Linked DNA regions of Homo sapiens: regions 1, 2, 3, 4, 6 and 7 are each linked to region 5. Evidence: fine-mapped expression QTL. A gene starts in region 5. Each other region holds a variant in brackets. All regions are shown on one strand. Distances are between the middles of the regions.

Region 1 (4,068 bases), 66 kb after region 5:
TGCCTGCACCTTCCCTCCTTCCTATCTTTCCCTTGCCTACAGAAAATTAAAAGGCAAAACAATGGACATCTACATATTCTTCATTCAGATCAACCAGTGGCTAGCATTTGCCACCTTTTGCAGTTTCTTTCTCTTTCCATAAGTACTTTCTTCTCTGAATCATTTGAAAGTAAGTTGAAAAGAGCATGATGTTTTACCCCAACACTTCAGCGTTTATCTCTTGTGAATAATGACATATTTCTATGTAATTACAGTTCTACCATCTAACTATAATACAGTAATTTGATGTACAGCCCATATTCAGATTTACCTAATTGTCTCCAAAATGTTCTTTATTTTTGTTTTAGATCCACAGTTTAATCAAAGATTAACCTTGCCTTTGGTTGTCACGTCTCTCTATTCTTTTACTTTGGAGTAGTTCTTTCAATACATGAAACATTTTGAAAAATCTAGGCTCTTTGTTTTGTAGAGTGACCCATAATCTAGATATATCTGGTTGCTTTTTTCTTCTCCTGACTAGAATAGATTGAGCATTTTGGCAAGAATACAGATTAAACAGTGTTCTCATGAGTGGATCCAGATTAAACAGGGAATAATGCCTAATTCAGATTAGGCAGTGTTGTGTACTTACCGCCTCACACCAGGAGATGTTTGCGTCTGTTTGTCCCACGATTGCTGATGCTATGTTTAATAATTTTGGTTGAGATAGTGTCAACTGGACATCTCCTTGTGAGGGTAGCTTTTCCCTTTTGTTATTAGTCATCTGTGGGATGAGACATCAAAGCACTGTGAACATCTTAGTCCCTGGCAACCTTCACGAGCTGGTTTCAGCATCATTGCCGAAGCCTCTTGGAAACATTGATTACACCCGTGGTTCCAATGGTGATTTTTCTCATTCCTTTTACATTGATTACCTGCCTCCTTGAGTAAGGTAGATGTTGTCTACTCCCCATGTTTTCCCTTCAAAATGTTTAATTTTAATTTAAATGATTAATACAGCTAAGTTATTCTTTCAACAGGCAAATGAAAACAGTAGCCTAAAGTGTCAGTTTCAACCCGAAAATAACAGCTCTGATTTCTCATGGCTCACACTCGTCTGAAATGACTCGGGTAGAGGCTGAGGAAGGCTGTGTTGTTTGTCTACCTGGGACTAGTAAGTATAGAAATAGAATTCCTTTGTTCTTAAATTCTACCTTTGACTTTACTTTTAAAATATAATTTCTTTGGTACGATTTAGCTCATGCCTGTAATCCTAGCATTTTGGGAGGCCAAAGAGGGAGAATTGCTTGAGCCCAGAAGTTTGAGACCAGACTCTACACACACACACACACACACACACACACACACACACTAAGCGGGAATGGTGGCATGCTACTGTGGCCTCAGCTACCTGGGAGGCTGAGGTTGGAGGATCATTTGGACCCAGGAGGTGGAGGCTGCAGTGAACCATGATTGTGCCACTGTACTCCAGCCTGGGTGACAGAGCAAGACCCTGTCTCACAAAAGAAAAAGAAGAGATCATCTATTAGTCCTCTTGATTTTTGTTAAAATGTGTTATGTGATAGTTGATAAGCTTTATGCATATGTCAATCTGTGGCCATTTAATTTTGGGCTAAGGACTTGTTCTATTATAGCACAGTAATCATTTTACTAAATAGTGACTAT[T/A]TGTCATTAAAAACAATATATTTAGTTTTAATACAGTTGAATACTCACAAATTTCTGGGGGAACTTGGTCAGGACATTTCAACTGAGAATTGTCAGGCACCTTCTCGCTGATAGGCATGCTGCTCGGTGGTGCAGCTCATAAGCAGACAACCCCCTTCATGTAATTTAGTAGGAAAATGACAGAAATACTTGTGTAACTATAAAGTAAAGCAGAATTCTGGTTATTGAATCACAGCACCTACTGAAAGAAGTTCTCAAGTTCTGATTGAGTTCTAAAATTCTTTTGAAGATTGGAATTCTTCATATGTAAGTAAAAACAATTTCTGATGACCCATTTCTAGTCCATCTCCTAAAGAAGTATTTAATCTGGGCCATGCATGGTGGCTCACGCCTGTCATCCCAGCACTTTGGGAGGCTGGGGTGGGTGGATCATGAGGTCAAGAGATCAAGACCATCCTGGCCAACATGGTGAAACCCCATCTCTACTAAAAACACGAAAATTAGCTGAGCATGGTGGCACGTGCCTGTAGTCCCAGCTACTCGGGAGGCTGAGGCAGGAGAATCACTTGAACCTGGGAGGTGGGGGCTACAGTGAGCTAAGATTGCGCCACTGCACTCCAGCCTGGCAACAGAGCAAGACTCCATCTGAAAAAAAAAAAAAAAGTATTTAATCTAAGCTGGGCATGATGGCTCACTCCTGTAATCCCAGCACTTTTAGAGGCCAAGGTATGAGGGTTACTATAAACCAGGAGTTTGACACCAGCCTAGGCAACAATAGCAAGACCCCGTTTCTACAAAAAAAAATTTAAAAATTAGCTGCGCAGGAGGCTGAGTTGGGAGGATCACTTGAGCTTAGGAGTTAGAGGTTGTAGAAAGCTATGATCATACCACTGCACTCCAGGCTGGATGACAGTGGGCCCTGTCTCTAAAACACAAAAAAAACTAACAAAAAAAGTGTTTAATCCATAAGATGACCACATTTATAGGAGGCTCCCAGCAATCTTAGCCTGAAGCCATGAAGGAAGACGCAGTGTGAAGGCAAGTACAGGCTGGCCTCTGGCAGCTGAGGATCAGGACAGGATGTGGAGTGAACCTCCACATCAAAGCTTTATTGCTTGGATTGGAAAAAAAATTCCTATCTGTAGGTCAGCCTTAAAATACACCATTTCATAAAATATTGTCTTTCCCATATTTTGAGCCCATGCAATTTGTGCTACCTGAGGGAACAGTATTGTGTCCTTGATTTGGTGAGATCAGTAGCTTTCTTATCTTATTGAGTGACAGCTACAGAACTCAGAAACAGAAGCTGCATATTAAGCAAATTTACATCTTTCTTGTTATAATATTATTGTGTATAAGAAATAGAGATGGCCGGGTGCGGTGGCTCACGCCTGTAATCTCAGCACTTTGGGAGGCTGAGGCAGACGGATCACAAGGTCAGGAGTTTGAGACCAGCCTGGCCAACATGGTGAAACCCTGTCTCTACTAAAAATACAAAAGGCAATAAGAGGTTCTATGTGGACTTTGAAGGTCGTCTCTATCAATTTGAGGTTGGGAAGAACAGTTTTGTTGACATCCTTTAGCTGTGTTACAAGTACAATTTTGTTTTTTACTCAGGCAAAAGAAAATGTGTGTGTGTGTTAAATACAGTCAGCCCTCTTTATCTGTGGGTCCTGCATCCTTGCTTTCTACCAACCTCAGATCAAAAATATTCCAGAAAAAAAAGGATGGTTGCATCTGTACTGAATATGTACAAGCTTTTTTTCTTGTCATTCTTTATGCAATAAAGTATAACAACCATTTACGTTGCATTTCCATTGTATTAGGTATTGTGGGTAATCTAGAGATGATTTGAAGGATATTGGAGGGTGTGTCCAGGCTGCAGGCAAGTACTATGGCATTTTATGTCAGGGACACCTACAGATTTTTGTCTCCAGCCATGGTTCCTGTATAGTTTAACATTTCCACACGCTGAGGGTGTGATGGGTCTGAGTTGGGTTGGTCCCCCATGTTTGAGGAAGTGTGCCCATCATGATTGTACACCCTTGTTGTAAACTTCGGATATGTCTATTTTGATATTTAAAACATTTTCAGGTTAAGTCTGAAAAATGCCAAGATAGTAACAATATTTTAAAAGGGAATTCAGAAGTATTACTATAATAATAGAACTCATTATTAGAACATTCTAATAGTAGAAAAGGAAGTCTATTTATTTTATAAAATTGTCAGTTCAGCTTAAGATCTAATAGTCTTTTCCAATTAGCATCAACTTAATTGAGACTACCTCAAAAGAAGAATTTAACACTTATTTTTGTAGAAAAAAAGCAATTTTAAAATAGCCTGGGAAAACTTAGGTAAGTTTTCCTTAATCCTGACTCCTAATTTGTGGCTAGAAGTGGCAAT
Region 2 (4,057 bases), 92 kb after region 5:
ATTACAGGCATGAGCCACCGTGCTGGGCTAAATCTTCTTCTTAAAGCGAACTCTTTGCATTCAGTTCTACCACAGGATCTCAGTAATTCTCCAACTGCCTGTTAAGCAGCTTCACCCTCTTGATATTAATGCTTTTATAAGGGAGATAGTACACGATTGCTATTTGCAGAGGAACCTCCAAAACTATCACCCAGATGAAACTTCTTTATATTTGTCCTAGTGATGTTATTTACCCCCACACCACAACTTCAATGTGCTGAAGTACTAGTATTTAACTGTTTTTCTCATACTCTTTACAGCCCATCTTCTTTCCTGCCTTCCTAAGTTTACCATATATTGTCATTTTCCTTAAATATGATTCTGTTTTTACTCTATCATAGCTAGCTACTGCCTCAAATGGCTGCACCCAAGCACCCACTCTACCCAGTAATATCTCAAGTTGCTAACGTAACACACAATACTGACTGCTGAATATGCCCACACAAGCAGGCACTTGAGGATGACATTACACTCCTTCCTAGCTGTTGCACTATCTATAGAAGAAATTGTTAACATACAAGCCCAATAGTCTGGATTCGACTACACCACTTACACACACACCAAAAACGCAGGTTTAAGAGGGGGACCTAGGCCAATGGATGCCTCATGGCAATCATCCACCATGACAAAGTGGATCGGGAAGGCACCAGAGATGGCCTGTAAGGCAAACCTCTGCATTAGAAACTCCAAGGGGTTCGGCCCTTTCCTAGGGGCTTTAACACAAGTGCATTGCAATTCTGCCCTCAACTATAATCAGGTACACCAGGAACAGGTGCCATATGACGACTCTGATCAGCTCACTGTGGACGCCCACAGGCTTTCTCTATTGCGGGGAAACAACAAAGTTAATGCCTGCAAGATTGATGATGATGACTTTATGCCTATAAACAATTCAGCAATGGGGATGGAATATATAGGAATAGGGGTCAAGACTAGACAACTCCTCATCCTCACTAATACATCTACATCTTTTTCTCAATTTTCCCTTATCCCATTAATATTTAGAAATCTTTATCTGTCAGACCCCACTTCTCCCACCTGTAATAATGCTCATAGCAGTTCATTTGTACCATTCATTGTTAATGCAATGTCTCATTTTGTGTCTTCTAGAATACAACAATTTCAAACCAAAATGTTACTGCAGCAATGGTATCAGCCATTAAGGGTACTCCATTAACTCTCCTTTAAACACAGCAGGACAAAATTTTAGGCTGCTAAATAAATGCTGTTCCCCCATAGTCCCACAGTCACCCCGCCCAATTCAAGTCCCAACTCCGGGGTTTAGGCCCATATAACCTCCTAACAGGCCAGTAATCCTAGGTAGGGCCACCTCTATGCCCCTGGTCAGCAGGAAGCAGTTGGAAGATGAGACCTTCACCCACATGACAAAGATTTGTCACTATTGCTCTGTCAGCAAGAAAATGTAGAGTCTTAATTAGGGAAAAGGAGTCAGGCTGGTGGGACTAAGGGAAAGCAAAAAGAGAAGGCAGATAAGCTGTAAGTTTGCCTTTCTTCATGGTGCAGGACACGTAGCCCTCTTGGGCAAATAACTCACAGTCTTCCTGCACCTATCAACAGACCCTCGGCTGACAGAAAACTGCAGGTTAGCTCACTGGAACCTCGGTGTTATCAATACTGCACAAAGACCCCTTCAGCACACAGCACAAGCATCACCCTGTAAAATCCCCAGCAAGTCTTTGTCTCCTTGTAGTTAGCTTCTCTCTTGCAAACTTGCCTGTTGCTTCCTTGCAATGTATCTTCCTACTTTCTCTGATACATCTGCCTTTCTTTACCTGCAACTGTCTTGGTAAACTCTTTTTACCACCAAACCACCAGCCCCAGATAGTTACTGCTCACCCATGACAGATTAGACAGAGTCCTTCAAAAGCCTAATGCATAAAGAAAAATCTGATAAATTAAACTGCAGAAACATTTAAAAAATGTTTGCTCTTAAGAAGACATCACTTAGAAAATAAAAAGAAAAATCACAGACTAGAAAAAATATTTGCAAATCATATACCTGATCAAGGACTTGTATCTAGAATATATAAAGGCCTCTCATAACGCAATAAGTACACAAACAATTCAATTAAAATATGGGTAAAATATTTGAACATTTCACCGAGGAAGATATATAAACTGTTAACGAGCACACGAGTAGATGCTTGACATCATTAGTCATTAGAGAAATGCAAATTAAAGCCATAATGAGCTACCACTAGAATAGCTATAATTAGGTAAGACGTTGGTAAATTACAGAACCACCTGTTTCTGTATAATAAAGTTTTATTGCAATACAGCCCTCCCATTTATTTATAATGTATGGTCTATGCCTGCTTTTACACTATCATGGCAGAATTGAGTAGCTGCTACAGAGACCACAGTGGTCTGCAAATTCTAAAATATTTACTATCTGACCTTTCACAGAAAAAGTGACAAGTATTGGTGAGGTTGTGGTAGGTAAATCATACCTCAACACTGCTGATGGTGTGTCCAGAA[T/C]TGGTGCGTTCTTGGTCTCACTGACTTCAAGAATGAAGCCGCGGACCCTCGCGGTGAATGTTACAGCTCTTAAGGTGGCGCGTCTGGAGTTTGTTCCTTCTGATATTTGGATGTGTTCGGAGTTTCTTCCTTCTGGTGGGTTCGGGGTCTCGCTGGCTCAGGAGTGAAGCTGCAGACCATTGCGGTGAGTGTTACAGCTCTTAAGGCAGCGCATCTGGAGTTGCTCTTTCTCCCTGGTGGGCTCCTGGTCTCACTGGCTTCAAGAGTGAAGCTGCAGACTTTTGCAGTGAGTGTTACAGCTCATAAAAGCAGTGTGGACCCAAAGAGTGAGTGAGCAGCAGCAAGATTTAAAGCAAAGAGTGAAAGAACAAAGCTTCCACAATGTGTAAGGGGACCCGAGCGGGTTGCCACTGCTGGCTGGGGCAGCCTGCTTTTATTCTCTTATCTGGCCCCACCCACGTCCTGCTGATTGGTAGAGCCCAGTGGTCTGTTTTGACAGGGCGCTGATTGGTGCATTTACAATCCCCGAGCTAGACACAAAGGTTCTCCACGTTTCCATCAGATTAGTTAGATACAGAGTATCCACACAAAGGTTCTCCAAGGCCCCACCAGAGCAGCTAGATACAGAGTGTCGATTGGTGCACTCACAAACCCTGAGCTAAACACAGGGTGCTGATTGGTGTGTTTACAAACCTTGAGCTAGATACAGAGTGCCAATTGGTGTATTTACAATCCTTTAGCTAGACATAAATGTTCTCCAAGACCCCACCAGAGCAGCTAGATACAGAGTGTCGATTGGTGCACTCATAAACCCTGAGCTAGACACAGGGTGGTGACTGGTGTGTTTACAAACCTTGAGCTAGATACAGAGTGCCGATTGGTGTATTTACAATCCCTGAGCTAGACACAGGGTGCTCCAAGGCCCCACCAGAGTAGCTAGATACAGAGTGCCGACTAGTGTATTTACAATCCCTGAGCTAGACATAAAGGTTCTCCATGTCCCCACCAGACTCAAGAGCCCAGCTGGCTTCACCCAGTGGATCCCGCACTGGGGCTGCAGGTGGAGCTGCCTGCCAGTCCCACGCCATGCGCTCGCACTCCTCAGCCCTTCGGTGATCGATGGGACTGGGCGCTGTGGAGCAGGGGGCAGTGCTCGTCGGGGAGGCTCGGGCTGCACAGGAGCCCACGGAGGCGGGGGAAGGCTCAGGCATGGCAGGCTGCAGTCCCGAGGCCTGCCCCGCGGGAAGGCAGCTAAGGCCCGGCGAGAAATCGAGCGCAGCGCCGGTGGGCTGGCACTGCTGGGGGACCCAGTACACCCTCCGCAGCCGCTGGCCCGGGTGCTAAGTCCCTCATTGCCCGGGGCCGGCAGGGCCGGCCGGCTGCTCCAAGTGCGGGGCACGCCAAGCCCACGCCTACCCGGAACTCCAGCTGGCCCGCAAGCACCGCACGCAGCCCCGGTTCCTGCTCGCGCCTCTCCCTCCACACCTCCCTGCAAGCTGAGGGAGTGGGCTCCGGCCTT
Region 3 (4,068 bases), 140 kb before region 5:
CACTAAATGCATGCCGGGAATAAATTAATTCTGTATCAGATAGTTGAGAGAACTGCAGAATTATACATCTCCACCTTGTACCTTCTGAATTTTTGTGCATTATTGGGTATTCAAATGAGTAAACAAATAGTAAGGTGCTTATTTTCATAATTTTAAAAAATCAAATTGTAAAGATTAATTCATTGAAAACGAAGTCCCCTGACCCCCTAATTCTACTTCACAACTTATCTTCATCTTAACTCTGGTAAGATTTCATTTTCAGCATAAATAGCATCATATCACACATCCGGTTCTCCCCTAACGACATGGTATACCCTGGGCACCTTTCCACCCCCACACATCTGGGGCTACCTCATTCTTTTTTGCAGCTAAAATGTTTTCCATGTCTTGGATGTACTGGGGTTCGTGTAGACCCATTTTGGTGGACATTTGTTTCCAGTTTTGTTTTGTTTTCTTTCAGTTTTGGTTTTGGCTATTAAAAATAATTCTCTACTGGACAGTCTTTTACTTGCATCTCTGCGTATTTGTTGGAGTTTCTTTGTAGAATACATTCTCAACTGGAGGGCAAATGGCTTGTACACTGTTTACATTTCACAGACATTGCCACAGTGCCCTCCAAAGAGGCTGTGCCCCTTCCCCTCCTACTGCCTCAGCCCAGGAAAGAGACTATTTCCCTGCCCTCAGCTGTCAGGAAACCTTTAGCTCTTTGACAAACTCATGAGTGAAAGATGATAGCTGTTTTATTTGTATTTCTTAATTATTAGTGAAGTTGGTATCTTTTAGGGCTAAGTCATTTGCATTTTTTGATGAATCGCCTCATTATACACTTTACACCGTTTCTTTAAAGGGGTATTCTTTCCTTATTTCATTTCAGCGATGTTTTAGCACCTACTCTGTAGTGGTTTACCACCCCCTTGTGAAACAGGATAGAGTGTGTCTGCACGGAAGCAGGGGGCAGAAGCAAACAAGAGTTCCTGTGTGGGGCATTCCCAACACAAAAGAGAGGTCATCAAGCCTTGAATCTGGTGAGACTTGAAGCATCTGATTACAAATGGACTGAGCCTCCATTTCCTTATCAGTAAAACAGAAAAATACAGTAATTCCTGTCCCTTGGTGAAAAAAAGCACAAAACCGTATGTGTAGGTCAGAATACCAGTCAAAACTGACATAAACCAAAAGGGAACTTATTGGTTCATGTAACTAAAAGCTCCAACTTCAGGCATGGCTGGATCCAGGTGCTCAAACACCATCAAGCATCGTCTGGCTCTCTCCACATTTCAGCTCTGCTTTCCTCTGTGTTAGCTGCATTCTCAACCTAGAGATACTGAGATAGCACCCAGGAGCTCCAGACTTATATCCTATTGATTCAACTATCCACGGAGAGCAGCTCCAGCAAAAACCCAGGGATTCGCTGTGATTGGTCTGGACTGGGTCATGCATCCATCCTCAAGCTAATCACTGAGGCTTGGGTGATAGACGATATAGATTCACCAGGCCTGGAGCTGAGGGATGAGAATGAGTCCCATATGAAGCATGTGGCCTGAGCAGGAAGATGAGGAAATTCAGCTGCTGTTACCAAAAGAAAGGACAGGATAAAACTATAGATGTCCCTCTGCGAGATTTTAGCCCTGCCTCAGCTATGTGACCCTGGACAAATTATTTCTCCTCTCCAGCCCTTGAGTTCCCTACCTGTAAGATTCTGACTTCAAACTCAATTGCTGATTTTGATACCTTTTGTAGCAGAAAACTTTTTTACTTTTCAATAAACAATACATGGAACCCAAAACACAGAACAGATAAGAGCTGTATTTTATTAGAAATGTTACTTGTGTTTAATTTTTATTTTACTTTACGCTCTGGGATACATGTGCAGAACATGCAGGTTTGTTACATAGGTATACATGTGTCATGGTGGTTTGCTGCACCTATCAACCCATCATCTAGGTTTTAAGCCCCACATGCATTAGGTATTTGTCCTAATGCTGTCCCTCCCCTGGCCCCTCACCCCCCAACAGGCCCCGGTGTGTGATGTTCCCCTCCCTGTGTCCATGTGTCCTCATTGCTCAACTCCCACTTATGAGTGAGAACATGCGGTGTTTGGTTTTCTGTTCCTGTGTTAAGTTTGCTGAGGATGATGGTTTCCAGCTCTATCCATGTCCCTGCAAAGGACATGAACTCATTTTTTA[T/C]GGCTGCATAGTATTCCATGGTGTGTATGTGCCACATTTTCTTTATCCAATCTATCATTGATGGGCATTTGGGTTGGTTCCAAGTCTTTGCTATTGTAAATAGTGCTGCAGTAAACATACCTGTGCATGTGTCTTTATAGTAGAATGCTTTATCATCCTTTGGGTATATACCCAGTAATGGGATTGCTGGGTCAAATGGTATTTCTGGTTCTAGATCCTTGAGGAATCACCATACTGTCTTCCACAATGGTTGAACTAATTTACACTCCCACCAATAGCGTAAAAGTGTTCCTATTTCTCCAAAGCCTCGCCAGCATCTGTTGTTTCCTGACTTTTTAATAACCTCCTTCCTAACTGGCGTGAGATGGTATCTCATTGTGGTTTTGATTTGCAAAAAATGTTATTTGTTTGATCCAGTATTAGTCAGGATAGACCAGAATCTGCTGTAATAAATAAACCCCAATATCTCAGTGGCTTAACACACAAAGGTTTGCTTCTTGCTCCTGTCACTGTTCGGTGCAGGTCAGGGAACTCTTCTTAGCAGATCTTCTCTACCCCTCAACCAGTGGTCCAGAGACCCACCCTCCCACCATCTGTGGTTCTGCCATGATACAGCTCTGGCCTCTGTGTAAGGGGAAGAAGCCACAAACTCCATGTCTGCCCACATCCCAGGGGCCCTCAGCATCCAGTCACAGGCCTCTATTCAAAGGCAAGAAACTCTGGGAAATGTAATCTTCCTCTACTGGAAAAGGAAAATGACACTGTATGTTCTATAACATTTACTTATTATAAGGTCAGTCATTGAGAACAATGAGGTTGTTTTGATAGATCAAAAAGAATAAGAAATTCCGCTGGGCGTGGTGGCTCACGCCTGTAATCGCAAAACTCTGGGAGGCCGAGGCGGGTGGGTCGCTTGAGGTCAGGAGTTTGAGACCAGCCTGGCCAACATGGTGAAACCCCGTCTCTACCAAACATACAAAAATTAGCTGGGCGTGGTGGTGGGCGCCTGTAATCCCAGCTACTCGGGAGGCTGAGGCAGGAGAATGGCTTGAACCACTGCACACCAGGCTGGGTGACAGAACGAGACTCTGTCTGAAAAAACAAACAAACAAACAAAGAAATTAGATATCATGGATGACAGATTTAGTCATGTCTCAACCTCAGCACTGACTTTAAGCTTCAAAACTTTTAAACTTTTTAAAGTTGCAAATATATTAAGAAAATCCCAGGTCAACAAGTAATAGCAGTTGAAAATCCTAGCAGTATTTAGAACCTTGCTTTGCTTGCAATTTTTAGGGTCCTCTTTACTTGTACAGAGATAGCAGGACAAACTTCAGTGTCAAACTTACTGACAACTGAGTTAATGGCAGAAGAAACTGTGCTGGCCATCTCCAGATGCTAACATTTAGTATGCAATATATCCAAGGGTTTTTGTTCTGTTTATTACAATGCTCAAATCCATATTTCAAATGTGAAGCTCAAATACAGTGTTTGCGGAGGGCTCTGTTCTGGAGCGCACAGTGCCAGAGGACCTTTGGGTTTCATAATGCATATGCATCTAAGCAGAGAATGGCTGGGTGTCCTCAGGCAAGACGTTTCCCCTCATTAGGCCTTGGTCTTTTCATCTATAATAGGGAAGGCTCAGCAAACCCCAGGGCCTCGACCAGAAAACAAATAAACAAACAGACCACACACAAACACACAAAGATCCTTTGCTTTTGGTGAAGGCATCTGCCACGTTGTGACAATGCTCAGGTAGACTAGATCGGGCAACGGAGAAAGAACCTCAGGCTTCCAGACATCAGCCACTGAACAAGCCTGGAGACGTCTGCTTCAGCTGGAAGCTTTATTGCAACCTCATGAGAGACTCTGAGCCAGAACC
Region 4 (4,068 bases), 57 kb before region 5:
ACACATCTAATAACAGAGCTTCAAAATATATGAAGAAAAATCTAATAGAACAGCACAGAGGAATAGACACATTTATAATTATAACAAGATTTCAATCTCCCTCTCCCAATCTTCCAGAGATTTCATTGTCTTCCAGATAATGAGTAGGATATAGTATACTTGAACAGCATTATCAACCAACTTAACCTGACATTTATAGAATACTCCACCCCAACACAACAGAATACACATTCTTTCCAACTGCATAAGAAATTTTTACCAAAATATCCATGAGTATGAACTCATGGATATTTACTGTATACTCTGGGTTATAATCCAATACTACTCTCTTTATTCTGCTGCTCCAGTTGTTCCAGCTTTGACCATTGGGAGCTCTTTCAGTCGGCTCCTGTCATGTAACCCCATCAAATACGGTTTTCCTTCTTCAGTACTTCCTTACTTTCTGGTGCTACAAGATGTTCCAGGCTCATCTTGTGTATTTCCTGCCTCAGTCCTAAAATCAGCCACTTCAAGGAGTTCTAGATTGTTTTACTGAAGAATGGTTTTAAAAACCAAGATCTGGGTACTAGGTGTGCTAACTGCTATTGAAGCAAACAATCAATTTTGAGAAAGGTGCAAAGGTAATTCAGTGGAGAAAGCAATCTTTTCAACAAATTGTGCTAAAACAACTGGATATCCATATGCAAAAAAAAATGAGGCTGGGTACAGTATCTCATGTCTGTAATCCCAGCACTTTGGGAGGCCCAGGTTGAAGGACTGCTTGAGCCCAAGAGTGTGAGACCAGCCTGGGCAACATAGTAAGACTCCATCTTAAAAAAATTTTTTTTTACTAATTAGCCAGACTGGAGTGCAGTGGCACAATCTCAGCTCACTGCAACCTCCATCTCCCAGGTTCCAGCAGTTCTTGTGCCTCAGCCTTCCAAGTAGCTGGAGTTACAGGTGCCCGCCACCATGCCTAGCTAATTTTTGTATGCTGAGCCTATTTTCAAACAGGTCATCTTTTAGCTGCTCTGAACTTCATGTTTATTGTGTTGCTGGTCAAAAATTACTGGTTTGGGCTCCTTGAATAAAAGGCTGATTCTAGGCCTGAGGCAGGGAAAGCGTAAGATGAGCCTGGGGCATCTCGTAGTGTAAGAAAGTAAGAAAGCACTAAAAAAACCAACAGGCCAGGTGCAGTGGCTCATGCCTGTAATCCCAGCACTCTGGGAGGCCGAGGCGAGCAGATCACCTGAGGTCAGGAGTTCAAGACCAGCGTGGCCAACATGGCGAAACCCCATCTCTACTAAAAATACAAAAATTAGCTGGGCGTGGTGATGGGTGCCTGTAATCCCAGTTACTTGAGAGGCTGAGGCAGGAGAATCACTTGAACCTGGGAGGCGGAGGTTGCAGTGAGCCAAGATTGCACCACTGCACTCCAGCCTGGGAGACAGAGTGAGACTCTGTCTCAAAGAAAAAAAAGAAAAAAACCAACAATGAAGAAACAGAAACCAGAACAGAGGATGGGTACATGTCAAAGAGATACAGCAGCCAATGTAAAAAAGCTACCAATGGTCAAAACTGGAACAATTCAAGCAATAAACAGAGTAGTATGAGGGGCTTTAAAAAGTTCTTGGAAAAAACGCAATTGAAAGATAAAAATTAGGGCTGGGCACAGTGGCTCACGCCTGTAATCCCAGCACTTTGGGAGGCAGAGGTGGGCGGAATACCTGAGGTCAAGAGCTCGAGACCAGCCTGATCAACATGGAGAAACCCCCTCTGTACTAAAAATACAGAATTAGCCAGGCGTGGTGGCACGTGCCTGTAATCCCAGCTACTTGAGAGGCTGAGGCAGGAGAGTGGCTTAAACCTAGGAGGCAGAGGTTGCAGTGAGCCAAGATTGCACCATTGCACTCCAGCCTGGACAACAAGAGCAAAACTCCGTCTCAAAAAAAAAAAAAGTAAGAAAGGTAAAAATTAAAAATACAAACTTTATTTCTTAACAGACGCTCCATCAAGTTCAAGACACTTTT[A/G]TAAGTGATGATGCCAGCCATTTAGTCCATTCTTAAAGAACTGAGGGTCCTGGGAATTCAACTGTGATAACGTAGCATTTTTTACGTTATTAATGGAAGAAAAAATGGGTGCCCTTTAAAGATTTTTGTAAGATTAGAAAACAAAAAAAATAGAAGGAGCCAAATGAGAACTGTAAGGTGAATGCCTAATGATTTCCAATAGAAACATTTGCAAGGCCAGGTGCAGTGGCTCATGCCTGTGATCCCAGCACTTTGGGAGGCTGAGGTGGATGGATGACCTGAGGTCGGGAGTTCAAGACTAGCCTGACTAACATGGAGAAACCCTGACTCTACCAAAAATACAAAATTAGCCGAGCATGGTGGCACATGTCTGTAATCCCAGCTACTCAGGAGGCTGAGGCAGAAGAATTACTTGAACCTGGGAGTCGGAGGTTGTGGTGAGCCAAGAGTGCGCCATTGCACAAGAGCGAAACTTGCAAAATTGCCCTTGTTTGATGAGAGGAATGAGCAGGAGCATTGTCGTGGTGGAGAAGGACTCTATGGTTAAGCTTTCCTGAGCTAAAGCTTTTTTTTTTTTTTTTTTTTTTAGCTTTCTGCTAAAGCTTTGGCCAACTTTCTGAAAACACTCTCATAATAAGCACATTATTGTTCATTGGCCCTCCAGAAAGTCAACAAGCAAAATGCCTTGAGTATCTCCAAAAACCAGTTGCCATGATCTTTGCTCTTGACTGGTCTGCTTTTGCTGTGACTAGACCCCTTCCGCCGCTTGGTGGCCATTGCTTTGATTGTGCTTTGTCTTCAGGATTGTACTGGTGAAGCCACGTTCCATCTCCGGTTACATGTCTTCGAAGAAATGCTTCAGGATCTTCATCCCACTTGTCTAAAATTTCCATGGAAATCTCTGCTCTTGTCTGCAGCTGATCAGGGTGCAATGGTTTTGGCACTCATCGAGTAGAAAGTTTTCTTAACTTTTTCAGTCAGAATTGTGTAAGCTGAAACAGCTGAGATATCTATGGTGCTGGCTATTGCTTTTGCTGTTAATTGCCAGTCCTCTTCTATTAAGGCCAAACCAAGATGAATTTTTTTCTTGCAAATTGATGCAGATAGTCTGCCACTGCAAGCTTCATTTTAAACATCATCTCATCTCCTCCCTTCTTAAAACAATGTATCCATTTGTAAACTGCTAATTTCTTTGGGGCATTGTCCTCATAAACGTTTCAAAAAGCATCAATGATTTCACCATTCTTCCACCCAAGCTTCAATTTGATGTTTCTGTTCCACTAATTTAATGTTTGTCCCTGTTTCAAATTTAGCAGAATTTATGTTTTTCTGAAAGGGGCTCTTTTCAAACTGACGTCTTATCCTTCCTAGTGCCTCAAACTAGATTCTGTTCAGACATGTTATAACATGTTAGTATGAGTTTATTTTGATGTGAAAAAATGCTTGAAATCCGTGTATAGTTTTTTTCATAATATTAATACATACTTTCCATGAACTTTTTGAAGACCTTCACATCGGATTATAACCCAAAGTATGAAATAAATATAAGCGAGTCCATACTGATGAAAACAGATGATTAAATAAATCAGTGTGGGAGAAGAAACAAATTTTCCTTACAGAAGAATTCCAACTAATATCTGTGAACACTTTTCCCACCCCCAAACCCACCCACCAGAAGGTGAAGCTTAATCCTCTCCTCCCACTTGAGGATGGGCTGGACTTAGTGACTTGCTTCCAACAAACAAAGTATAGAATATGGGAAAAAACAAACTTTATGGTGGAAAAGCCTGGGAAACATTACCCTAAACAAGTGAGGAAGGTTAACATTATCAGTGATAAGTCATGCTGATAATCACATACCTCTGGTATGATAAAAATATTTCACCTCTCTGGGGTTCTTCCCCCAAAACCATAATGGTAGTTAATGGAGTCAAGGACGTGCTATCCCCAAATATGCTTAATCGGTATATTGATTATTTTGAATGAAAAACATTGGAGAAATTGTAGCTTCAGAAAGGGCTAGCTGACCTGTCTCTCCCTGCATGCAGCCAGCCATAAA
Region 5 (4,068 bases):
ATTTTAACTAGAAAAAATAAGTTAATATCTAATAATAGTTGACTTGTTGATTAAAATAAGTAGTTATTATGAAAGAGAAAAAAGGTGATTTCAAATTGATTCAGAAGAACTGGCCTAGCAACTAAGATTGTATGCTTTCCTTTTTTTTTAAAAAAAAAAAGAACGGATATAATGTTATGTGACAATTAAATACAGAAATTACAAAACTAGTTAAATTGATGTTGCCATTAAAGCAACATTAAATAGTTTTGGGGGAGAAGAAAGAAGCCGAGAAGATGGTATCTGTGCAGTTAAGATGGTCATGTCATTTGATACATGTAAACAGAAAGCAGCCTGAGGCCCACACCTGCACCATGCTGAAAGAGCTGACCAGCGTTATATGTTCAGTCCTAGATGAAATGCTGCATTTGTTTTTTAAACACTGGTATGCATTGTTTTAAAAATGTATAAAATAACAGTGAAAAGTTAAAGAATCGTAAGAATGTAGCTAAAGGTAAAAAAAATTTGCAAAGCCATAATTTTTATGATGAAACAATATATTTTTTATCTTTTACGTATAATGTTTTAATGCTTTTTTAGCCCAATGAAATGTGGAAGTGTTTTGTGATTTTTATCTTACTATAGTGATTGTTTTATAAACAAAGAAAAAATTAATTCAGGATTGCAGATATGGTAAACTATTAAAATAGTTTGGGTATTAAAATATGAAATAATTGGGTATTAATTCAAAATCCAAGAGTTGCCATTGAACAAACCTGTAGGCATAGGTAAGTGCTGAGGTGAAAGTGCCAACCAAAGCCGTTAGATTGAACATTTATGCCTGGAGGGAATCAGTAGAGGAACTGGCTGTGGACCTTCACCTCTGCATCCCCTTTGCTTTCTGCTGTAGCTGGGTATCACAAAAACAACAACAAAAGCCACTTATTTCTTAAAGACAGAGAAAGGATAGTTCCTTCCATTTAGGCATTCCTAAATTGCCTCCCCGGTGGCCCCTGCGCTCTTGGAGGAGGTCAAGGCAGAGCAGACCCTCAGGTGGGGGAGCGATGCACTTGACCCTGAGGACATCAGGTACCAGGCCCACTAGCCCCCGCAGGCGCGGAGCTGCGGCTGCAGCCACCAGCCTAGACGTGGCGCGCCCGCAGCAAGTGGCTGGACACCGCAGACCAGGCCCGCGTCCCCAGCAGCGCGGATCCCGGGGCCAGCCGCCCAGGCAGCAAAGTCAGGCGGTCGGCTTCGCCAGCAGCCGATGAGTCTCATCCTGTGGATTGCCCAGCGCCAGGGATCAGGATCCGGAGAGGTGTCCAGGAGGAGCAGACCCTCAGACCAGGTAGGCTGTGCACTCAGTGACCCTGACGCCATCCAAGGGAAGCTCCGCCATCCCGCGCCAGTGCCAGAGCTGCAACTGCAAACTGCGCGTCCTGGCACGAGCAGCGGTGGGGGCGGGTGGGGGAAGGAGCGAGTGACTCTCCAGGCGTCTTCCGCTACCTGACACCAGCCAGGCAGCCCCCAGGGCCAGAGCGTCAGCGCCGAAGCCAGGCTCATCCGGGAAGCCACTCCGGTGGCCGCGGGGTGCCCATGCCAGCACCAGATCTCTCTTCGGAAGGAGGAGCGGGGCGGGCTACACGGCCAGGCGGGCCCTCCCCTTAAGGCGGGGTGGGCCGCGCGCCTGCGATTTTCCGTCCGTGGTCCTGGGGCAGCCCTGGCCAGCCCAGGAGAACCCGCGAGCCCAGCGGCGCCTGCACCTGCGGCTTCCGGGAGCCGGGCGGCTTTGCGAGGCTCACTAGGTCTGAGAGGTCGGAGGCCGCCAGTGTCGCTGCTGAAGGGTGGACCAGGCGGGATCGCGGATTCTGGGCTAGATCGCAGACTTGGTATCGCGGATTGGGATTTGGATCGGGGATTTTGAGTTGGATCACGGATTGGGGGTTGGATCACGGATTGGGGTTTGGATCGCGGATTGGGGGTTGGATAGGGGATTTGGAGTTGGATTGGGGATTTGGGGCTGGGTGTGGGGCGAGGGGGAGTGAAAAGGTGACACGGAGCTGCCGCGGCTCAGGAGCCAGTGGTTGGGGGTCTGAGAAGAACTCACCACCTTGAAGAAGTTCTTCGGCTTTGGGAGCCGCAGGGGCCGGCGGTCCGGGGCTCCCTAGGCCACGTCTACAGGGGTTCGGGGTACCGAATCGGAAGATCCACAGGGCGCTGTCAAGGGCGAAGCCGCGGAAGTGGAGCGCTGCCTGGCGCGCAGGAGCAGAGACCTGGAAGCCGGGGACAGGCAGCACAGGCAGTGGGGTGGGGGCTCAGCCCAGGGTGGGAGGGGGTCCCCAGGCCCGGCTTCCCCGCAGCCCCTGGGATGGGGCCTCAGAGGGCACCCTCAGAGGGGTGGTGCCAAACGGAGCCTCAGCTGCTCTGCATCCCCCATAATTCCCCAGCTGGAGCGCTTGGTGGAGAATGTGAGTGATTTAACTCACCAAGCTAAGCATACACAGTGTTATTTTTAACCTACACGTTTAAAACATGGTGTTATATACATTATAGGAGGTGCCTAATGAGAGAACTCATTCCTCTATCAAAAAATACCGTGAGTCGGCCGGGCGCGGTGGCTCAGGCCTGTAATCCCAGCACTTTGGGAGGCCGAGGCGGGCGGATCACCAGGTCAAGAGATCGAGACCATCCTGGCTAACACGGTGAAACCCCGTCTCTACTAAAAATACAAAAAAAAAAAAAAAAATTAGCCGGGCGTGGTGGCGGGCGCCTGTAGTCCCAGCTACTCGGGAGGCTGAGGCAGGAGAATGGCGTGAACCCGGGAGGCGCAGCTTGCAGTGAGCCGAGATGGCGCCACTGCACTCCAGCCTGGGCGACAGAGCGAGACTCCGTCTCCAAAAAAGAAAAACAAACAAACAAACAAAAAACCGTGAGTCATTTTCAGTAGCGAAAAGCTCTCACCTAAAACTGTCCGTTTTACATCCGTATCCACCTGTGTAGATCGGTTCTTTACTGAAGGTTCTTAGAAGGAAACTTGGAAGTGGGAGGTGGGTTCTGTGTTCCTGAATGGGAAGACACATTTTTCTCAAAATGTGAGCTCTTTCTGTGATTATCAATTTTACATAAGCCGAATGAAAAAATCAAGGTTTTAACATTTTTGCATGACACCTACTGTCTTTTACTATTGTAATGACATTTGTAAAAATTTTAGGGCTGGGCGCGGTGGCTCAGGCCTGTAATCCCAGCACTTTGGGAGGCCGAGGTGGGCGGATCACGAGGTCAGGAGATTGAGATTGAGACCATCCTGGCAAACACGGTGAAACCCTGTCTGTACTAAAAATACAAAAAAAAAAAAAAAAAAAAAAAATAGCCGGGCGTGGTGGTGGGCGCCCATAGTCCCAGCTACTCCGGAGGCTGAGGCAGGAGAATGCTGTGAACCCGGGAGGGGGAGCTTGCAGTGAGCCGCCATCCAGAAGTGCTGGGATTACAGGTGTGAGCCACCGCGCCCGGCCTGAAAAGTGCATCTTCATTTTACAGGGAATTCTTTCAAATCAAATAATCAAAAACTGTAAAAGGGGGCAAAGTACTTTTTTGCAGATCTACAAGTTTCTTATGTAAATAGGAAAAAAAGCCTTTGCTTTTCTGGTATAAGAATTTAAATTAAAAGAGGAATGAAACTGTTTTCTATCCACAATGTGTGAGGATGTTTTTTATACTGCTGCCTGAAGTTTAAGTTGCTGATTACTTTTTAAATAGATAATTTGGTGGTAAGTACTATATTTTAAAAATGCGTATGCCCGTTACCCTTCAATTCCATTATACTAAAATACCCTTGGGAAATAGAGATACATGCACTTTGTTTTTCACAGCACTTATTTTAAAAAGAACCCATAGAATGGATCTTATAAGTAAATTTCAGTTGCATCCATAGGATGCAATAATATGTGACCATCAAAGGTGACAATAGATATAGAAGTACGTTGATGTGCGAAGATGTATTTTGTTTTAGCCAGCGAGGAAAAAAGAATCAGTTTGATTACACATTTACCAAACATTAAGAATTTAATATGGTAACTTTTATTTCAGTAT
Region 6 (4,068 bases), 600 kb before region 5:
GCAGCTGGGACTCTGTGCCCCCACCACTCTTGTGTGACCCTCAGCAGACACCCAGCCTCTCTGAGCGTCGGCCTCTCAGCTGAGAAACCTCAGCCCCCCAGGGACTGTGCCAGAATGCCCCACCCATTCCCCCCGAAGATTCCAGTGCGGACTGAGAACCGAAACCCAGAAATAGGCATCTCTGTTGGTCAGACCATCTCACATGGAGACTCGAGGGCAAGACTAACCTGCCCTCAGAATGCCTAGGATTCCCACCGGAGGGGGCACAGGCCAATTTGATCCAAAAATTCCAGGCAATGCTGGGTGTGATGGTTCGTGCCTGTAATCCCAGCACTTTGGGAAGCCGAGGCGGAAGGATGGTTTGAGCTCAGCAGTTCAAGAACAGTGAGGGCAATAGAGGGAAATCCCATCTCTACACAGCATTTAAAAATCAGCCGGGCGTGGTGGCACCCACCTCTATTCCCAGCTACTCAGAAGGCCGAAGCGGGAGGATTGCCTGAGCCGGGGAGTTCAAGGCTGCAGGGAGTCACGATCATGCCACTGCACTCCAGCGTAGGCGACACAGCAAGACCCTGTCTCAAAAAAAACCACTCCAGGCCAGATCACCCTCTGTGTGGCTAGGCCTGGGCCCGGAGACACAGAATTCCCATATGGCATGACAGCCTGCTGCTCTGTATACCATTCCGTCCTCACTAACACAAATGCATGGATAGATGGTAACAGCACAGCTCAGGTGAAACCACCCACAGACCAGCGACAGGCAGGACCCTCTCTCCCGGTGGTGCTGGTGTCCCAAGCAGCTGGTCCTGCTGGCATGGACACACCTTCTGCTCTGAGTGGCACTTCTCAGCCTTCTCGCCATCCCCATGGCCATCGTACTTGCTGGCCTTCCCCTGTGGAAGGTGGGAGTAGGGGAGCCGGCAGGGTCCCCTGGGCTGGTGCAGCTTCCACACTTCCCTACATCCTGAGGAGGGCCAGCTGCTGGCTTAACTGTTCTTCTTTCCCAAGTCCGAAGGGACCTTTGTAAGCCACCCCCTAATTATTTGTTGAAGGCAACGTCACCAATCCTCACAGGTGGAGTGGATGAGTGAGGGGCAGGGAGTGGCAGAACCCCACTCCACTTCAGTGACTGTGGCCATGCCAGACCCTCTAGGCCCAGGTAGGCCAGGGCCCCTTGATTTTCCAGGTGAAAACTTGCAAAATTAGGACTTGACGATGAAATCTGCCTGGTAGCACTGGCCACGGATCGGAATGGGCCTAGCTAGATGTGCCTGCCGGCTGGGTGGGCCCACACATCTCCAGGGTGCGTCTTTGCCCTGCCCTCCCCACTCCCCTGCCCTGCTCAGCCTTGGCCTCAGCTGTCCCCACACCCGCTGCCCTGGAAGGCTGTCCTGGCAGAAAGCACTCATATTGTGACCCTGCTCAGCAGGACGCTGGGGACAGGTGAAGTCCCTGCCTTTTCTCTCCTCCCTCTCACTGCGGCTGGTCCCGACATTGGCCCCGGACGTGATCCTCCCTGCCTCTGTCCCGGCCGTCCTCTTAGCCAGGGCCGTGCTGTTCATACCACCTCCTTCATTGGCTCAAATGCCACTTCCCATTCACTCATTCTGGTTTTAAAACGTTGAAAAACATTTCCACGTAGAAATGTATACATTCTGTTAAAAATAATGAATAATGAGTGAAATCAACTGCGACTGAAAAATCAAAACTTGGAACTCCTGATCAGCAGCTGTGGTGACAGTGCCTTTTCCCCTTCAGCAGAAAAAGAAAGAAAATATGAGAGAAGTACAAAAACAGGAAAAAAGCATACACACACACACACACACACACACACACACAAATGCATGCTCTAGAAATCCAAGGATAAGTTTTACGTGGCTGCACTGGAGTGTCCACATCCCACTGCTGGGCCCCGCCTTGGTGTGCCACATTGGACCCCCTCATCTAGGTCACCTGTGACCCAGAGTTGCAGTCCCCCCCAGCAGGTTCTGGTCTTCATCCTGCTCCAACACTAGGCAGCAATTGACCCATTGACTTTCCACACCCTGCTGTCTGTGGCTTCTACAGATAAATAAAACCATTCCTCAGTGGTAAAAAGGGCTTCAGCAAAACAGGCCACATGTAGAATTTTGTGTATAGATCATCACGGTTCACAAAACACAGGTCATGTTGGAGGCAGCATCGGTTCAGGAACTAGCCCTGAAAGTCTGTGGAGCCTGGTTCCAGCTCCAACCTGAGGCTGTGGGGCCTCCCTGACCTTCAGTTTCCTCATCTATAAAATAAGGTTGAACTAAATGGGT[A/G]GTTATTTTTCCTTGTTTTTGTTTTCTTTTTCTTTTCTTTTTTTTTTTTTTGAGATGGAGTTTCGCTCTTGTTGCCCAGGCTGGAGTGCAATGGCGTGACCTCTGCTCACCGCAACCTCCGCCTCCTGGGTTCAAGCAATTCTCCTGCCTCAACCTCCCTAGTAGCTGGGATTACAGGCATGCACCACTAGGCCCAGCTCATTTTGTATTTTTAGTAGAGACAAGGTTTCTCCATGTTGGTCAGGCTGGTCTCGAACTCCCGACCTCCGGTGATCCGCCCACCTCGGCCTCCCAAAGTCCTGGGATTACAGGTGTGAGCCACCACACCCAGCGTGTTTTCATTTTTATAGTTCTAGGTTTTTCTCTATTAATTACAGGGGTAATACATGAATTCTTGCTTACTGTAAACAAAAGTAATACAAAAAGTACCAAAATACAGAGAATAATGTGTCAAAGGCTGCCTTCATCCCTGCAAGACCCCTCTGCCCAGAGGTCCCACTATTACCAGATTCATGTGTGTCCATCCAGGCCTCTTTCTCTGCATGTACACACACAGAGGTACACAGTGCACGTAGAGAGTTTTGTTTAGTATTTTTCTGCTTGTTTCACTTTTCCAGTCCTAGCATCTACGGTCAACAGTGCTGACTCATGAGATACCTTTCAAGTTTTGGTTAAATGAATAAGGGTTTTTTTTAGTTGATCACTATGTCTTGGAGAGCTTTCTGGTTTGTTTGTTTTTTTTAATTGTCTCATAGATACACAATAATTTAATCAAATTTCTCTAGTGCAGGTTCACAATCTGTTAGCCAAACCCTTTGAGCTTGACGTGTGCAGAATTCAGAATCCTTCTGGGGCAGCTCCCATAACCAGACAGGCTAATGTTTCTGCAGTGAAATGTATAAACACACCCGCAAGTGAGATAAATAAAGTCTAGAAACAGCCTCACATCAATCTGGCTTGCCTCCAACTGAAAACTACTCCAGTTTAACATAAACTCTTGGCTCTTAGAGCTTTTGGGATTCCAAATAAGAGAAGGATGGGGTCTCTGTGTGGAGCCTCAGTCAGACCTGTTGGGCAAGCTTGGCCAAGCCTGGGTCTGCCTCAGGATCTTCCGTCCTGCGGCCGCTGCCACCTGCCAGCGGTCTCCATTCACCCTGTCCTTGAGCCTTGGTGATGAGGGTCCTTCCTCACCCTGAGGCAGGTGACCTTTCCCAGGAGGCACCAAACCTCCCTGGGCACTCAGCGCTGCTCCATCCCTGCGTATCCTGCAAACTGCCCGGCCCCACCCCACATCCCATCAGCTCTGTTCATTGTCGCCTCTGCGGGGGAACTTCTCCCATCTCCACGCCACCTTCTCCCTCTTGGGTTGGTGTTAGTGACCTCCAGCCCTAACCCTCACTTGAGCTCTGGTTTTACTACTCTGATCACACTGGATTTACCAAAAACCCATATGCCAATTCCCAGTTAGGCTTCCCAGCCCTGCCCTTCTTGCCACTCCCTCCAGTCAGCGGCAGAAGTACAGGTCCCATACCGGTATCGTCCTGCTTGAGGAGGCCCACTTGCTGTGGGGCATGGACTGCAGTCCTCAGGGGGTGCAGGAAAACCCTGAAATGGGGCAGACTGAGTGTCTGTGCACATGTGCATTTTCCCAGGGCTCTGTGGGGCCTGTTATCCCCTTGGAGAGCTACCACTGTGGCTCTTTTTACTTTTTAAAAGATGGGGTCTCACTATGTTGTCCAGGCTAGAGTGCAGTGGCTGTTCACAGACA
Region 7 (4,068 bases), 130 kb after region 5:
GGAAAAAAAAATTATAAACATTATTTTTAAATTGTAAATAGGCCAGGCGTGGTGGCTCACGCCTATAATCCCAACACTTTGGGAGGCTGAGGCAGGCGGATCACCTGAGGTCAGGAGTTCAAGACCAGCCTGGCCAACATGGCAAAACCCTGTCCCTACTAAAAATACAAAAGTTAGCTGGGAGTGGTGGCACGCGCCTGTAGTCCCACCTACTCTGGAGGCTGAGGCATGACAATTACTTGAATCTGGGAGGTGGAGGTTGCAGTGAGCCGAAATCGTGCCACTGCACTCCAGCCTGGGCAACAGAGCAAGACTCTATCTCAAAAATAATAATAATCATAAACTGTAAATACAGGTAAGAAATTCTTATGTAAGAACCTGCCCCTATCTATTTCTACTCTAGATAACTACAGTTTTTGTGTATTGCTCCAGAAATTTTCCTTGTGTGTGCACAAACATATTTAAATGTATAATTCTTTCCCAATGGGGTCATGCTAACTTTTTAAAATTACTTAATATATTATAGGCATTAAAATAAAAACTAAAATTTATATATATTTATATATAATTAGTATATATATTTTAAAATTAAAAAATATGTAATAGACATTTAAAAAATTCATACCTCATTCAGACCATTATTCATTTTGCTTGCAATGGTATTCCCAGTGCACAACATGGTGCCTGGTACATTGTAAGTATTCATTCAATAATCGTTTTATCAGCTGCATGTTATTCTAATGTTAAAAAAACATAATTACTCAGGAATGGAAAACCAAACATCGTATGTTCTCCCTCATAAGTGGGAGCTAAACTATGAGGATGCAAAGGCATAAGAATGACTTTGGCGACTCAGGGAAGGGGTGAGAAGGGGGCGAGGGATGAAAGACTACAAATTAGGTTCAGTGTATACTGCTTGGGTGGTAGGTACACCAAAACCTCACAAATCACCACTAAAGAACTTACTTGTGTGACCAAATACCACCTGTTACCCAAAAACCTATGAAACTAAAAAGAAATTTTAATAAAAATTTTTAAAAACCAAACTTAGCCAGTCTCTTATTGATTTTAATTTTTTTGATGTTAGACTATGATATGATGAATCCTCTTGCATGGTCATTAAAATACGGTTTTTTTCTCTGCATTTTATGGTTAAAAAAGGAAAAAAAATGTTTGTAGGACAAGTTCCTTGCAGTGGAATTTTGAGGATAAAGAGTAATATGTCTTTTTTTATTTTAATATATACCACTATTGTGGACATTATGTCATTCCTTGTGACATCCTAGTTTCTGAATCTCAGAACACTAGGAGTGTACAGAACTCCCACCTTCAGAGATACAATCTACTTCTGTGTAAAGAAGCAGAAATGGCAGATGCTCACTTTCCCAGGCTCTGGTACACCTAGTGCTCAGACGTGGGACCTAGGTTCTACCAGAAGCTGGTGACAGGAAGAAGCAGGGCCCAGGTGAACTCCAATTTAGTGAAGATGGCAGCAGCAGTGGCAACTACATACAGCAGTAGTAACATTCTTTGTTTTTTTCTTTTTTTTTTCAGACGGTGTCTTGCTGTGTCACTCAGGCTGGAGTGCAGTCGCACAACCTCAGCTCACTGCAACCTCTGCCTCCCGGGTTCAAGTGATTCTCCTGCCTCAGCTTCCTGAGTAGCTGGGATTACAGGTGTACGCCACCATGCCCAGCTAATTTTTGTATTTTTAGTAGAGATGGGGTTTCGTCATATTGGCCAGGCTGGTCTCAAACTGCTGACCTTAAGTGATCTGCCCACCTCAGCCTCCTAAAGTGCTGGGATTACAGGCACAAGCCACCGCGCCCGGCTGCTTTTCCTATTTGAAATGAAGTTATGAATCATCTTATCTGTTACTTTTTAAAATCCCATTGGAATTTTGTTTGTAATTATTAAGCTTATAGATCAATTTGGGTAGAACAAATGCTTTTTAAAATTTAAATTTTTGTTATAAAAGGTGTATGATGGCTGGGCACGGTGGCTCACACCTGTATTCCCAGCCAGCTCTTTGGAAGGCCGAGGCGGGTGGATCACTTGAGGCTGGGAGTTTGAGACCAGCCTGGCCAACATGGCGAAACCCCATCTCTACTAAAAATACAAAAATTAGCCAGGTGTGGTGGCATGCACCTGTAATCCCAGCTACTCTGGAGGCTGAGGCAGGAGAATCACTTGAACCCAGGAGGTGGAAGTTGCAGTGGGCTGAGATCATGCCACTGCACTCCAGGCTGGGTGACAGAGCAAGACTCTGTCTCAAAAAAAAAAAGGGAAAAAAA[A/G]GTTTTATGAATAAGTAATTTAAGTAGACCTATATTCAATAAAGAAATAGAATCAATAATTATTAGTAACCTTCCAAAACAGAAAGCCCCAGGCCCAGATGGGTTGGCGAGTGAATTCCAACAAATATTTAAGGAAGAAATGATATAAATTCTCAACAATCTTTCAGAGAATAGAAGCAGAGGGACTACTTGCTAACTAGCTCTATGAGACCAACATTACACTAATACCAAAGCAAGACAAATTATAAGAGAAAACTACAGACCAATATCTTTTATGAACACAGATGCAAAAATCCTCAACAAAATATTAGCAAATCAAATCCAACAATGTTCAAAAAGAATTACACATCGTGACCAAGTAGGATTTCTCCCAGGTATGCAAGGTCAATTCTACATTTGAAAATCAATTAAATCCATTAATGCAATTCACCACATCAGTAGGCTAAAGAAGAGAAATCACATGATCCCTTCAATAGAGGCCAAAAAAGCATTTAACACCCATTCATGATTTAAAAAAAAAAAAGCCTTCCAGCAAACTAGGAATAGAGGGGAACTTCCTCAACTTCCGAAAGAACATCTACAAAAAACCTGCCACTAACATCATACCTAATGGTGAAAAACTTGAAGCATTCCTACTAAGATCAGGGATAAGGCAAGGATGTCTCCTCACTACTCCTTTTCAGCATTGTACTGGAAGTCCTAGCTAATGTGACAAAAAAAGAAAACAGAAGAAAAGAAAGATACAGGGCTGGGCATGGTAGATCACGCCTGTAATCTGAGCACTTTGGGAGGCCAAGGCAGGTGGAGTACTTATGGCCAGGAGTTCGAGACCAGCCTGGCCAGTGCGGTGAAATCTCGTCTCTACTAAAAATATACAAATCAGCCAGGCATGGTGGTGAGCACCTGTAGTCCTAGCTACTTGGGAGGCTGAGGCCGAAGAATCACTTGAACCCAGGAAGCAGAGGTTGCAATGAGCCGAGATTGCACCACTGTGCCCCAGCCTGGGTGACAGAGTGAGACTCTGTCTCAAAAAAAGAAAAAGTATGTGGATTGGGAAGGAAGAAATAAAATTGTCTTTGTTCACTGAAGACATGATTTGTCTATGTAGAAAATCTCAAAGAATCTAGAAAAAAACCTCTTGGAACTAACAAGCAATTATAGTGAGTTTGCAGAACACAAGGTTAACATACAAAACTCAGTTGCTTTCCTATATACTAACAATGAAAAAGTGGAATTTGAAATGAAACATACATTACCATTTACATTTACATTAGCACTCCCAGAAATTGAACAAATAGGCGTAAATATAACAAAATATCTACAAAATCTTTATATAGAAAACTGTGATGACGGGTGTCAAAGAAGAACTACATAAATGGAGAAACATTTCATGTTTGCGAATAGGAAAACTCAATGTCATCAAGATGTCAATTCTTCCTGACTTAATTGGTAGATTCAATGCAATCCCAATCAAAATCCCAGCAATTTGTTCTATGAACATCAACAAACTGATTGTAAAGTTTATATGGAGGGACAAAAGATTCAGAATAGCTGTCTTAGTTCATTTTGCATTGCTGTAAGGGAATACCTGAGGCTGAGTCATTTATAAAGAAAAGAGGTTTATTTGGCTCATAATTCTGCAGGCTGAACAAGAAGCATGGCACCAGCATCTGCTTCTAGTGAGGACCTCAGGAAGCTTCCAACCATGGCAGAGGTGAATGGGGAGCAGGTATGTCTCATGGTGAGAGAAGGAGGAAGAGAAAAAAGAACATTC

Evidence for each region.
Region 1: its variant is fine-mapped to the expression of FAM153A in whole blood (TOPMed, PIP above 0.99).
Region 2: its variant is fine-mapped to the expression of FAM153A in whole blood (TOPMed, PIP 0.97).
Region 3: its variant is fine-mapped to the expression of FAM153A in whole blood (TOPMed, PIP above 0.99).
Region 4: its variant is fine-mapped to the expression of FAM153A in whole blood (TOPMed, PIP above 0.99).
Region 6: its variant is fine-mapped to the expression of FAM153A in lymphoblastoid cells (GTEx, PIP 0.97).
Region 7: its variant is fine-mapped to the expression of FAM153A in whole blood (TOPMed, PIP above 0.99).

Annotation. Positions count from the first base shown.
Region 1 is chr5:177,714,248-177,718,315 of GRCh38, reverse strand. It overlaps LOC107986489 (a long non-coding RNA gene), which reads right to left. Exons shown (of 5, transcript XR_001743020.2): 3 at 1,714-1,862; 4 at 632-763. It also overlaps a transcript of FAM153A not described here. Among named protein-coding and RNA genes, the nearest start is that of FAM153A, 67 kb to the left of the region's middle. The variant T/A (reference allele first, on the strand shown) is at 1,666.
Region 2 is chr5:177,688,194-177,692,250 of GRCh38, reverse strand. The region is part of intron 1 of LOC107986489 (a long non-coding RNA gene); the gene reads right to left. Among named protein-coding and RNA genes, the nearest start is that of B4GALT7, 90 kb to the right of the region's middle. The variant T/C (reference allele first, on the strand shown) is at 2,539.
Region 3 is chr5:177,920,272-177,924,339 of GRCh38, reverse strand. No RefSeq gene overlaps it. Among named protein-coding and RNA genes, the nearest start is that of PROP1, 74 kb to the left of the region's middle. The variant T/C (reference allele first, on the strand shown) is at 2,187.
Region 4 is chr5:177,837,989-177,842,056 of GRCh38, reverse strand. No RefSeq gene overlaps it. Among named protein-coding and RNA genes, the nearest start is that of FAM153A, 57 kb to the right of the region's middle. The variant A/G (reference allele first, on the strand shown) is at 2,010.
Region 5 is chr5:177,780,543-177,784,610 of GRCh38, reverse strand. It overlaps FAM153A (family with sequence similarity 153 member A), which reads left to right and starts at 1,712. Exons shown (of 23, transcript NM_001413826.1): 1 at 1,712-1,868.
Region 6 is chr5:178,378,165-178,382,232 of GRCh38, reverse strand. The region is part of intron 2 of COL23A1 (collagen type XXIII alpha 1 chain); the gene reads left to right. It also overlaps the pseudogene RN7SL646P. Among named protein-coding and RNA genes, the nearest start is that of PHYKPL, 150 kb to the right of the region's middle. RefSeq lists an enhancer at 990-1,796. The variant A/G (reference allele first, on the strand shown) is at 2,301.
Region 7 is chr5:177,648,758-177,652,825 of GRCh38, reverse strand. It overlaps the pseudogene SIMC1P1. Among named protein-coding and RNA genes, the nearest start is that of B4GALT7, 51 kb to the right of the region's middle. The variant A/G (reference allele first, on the strand shown) is at 2,295.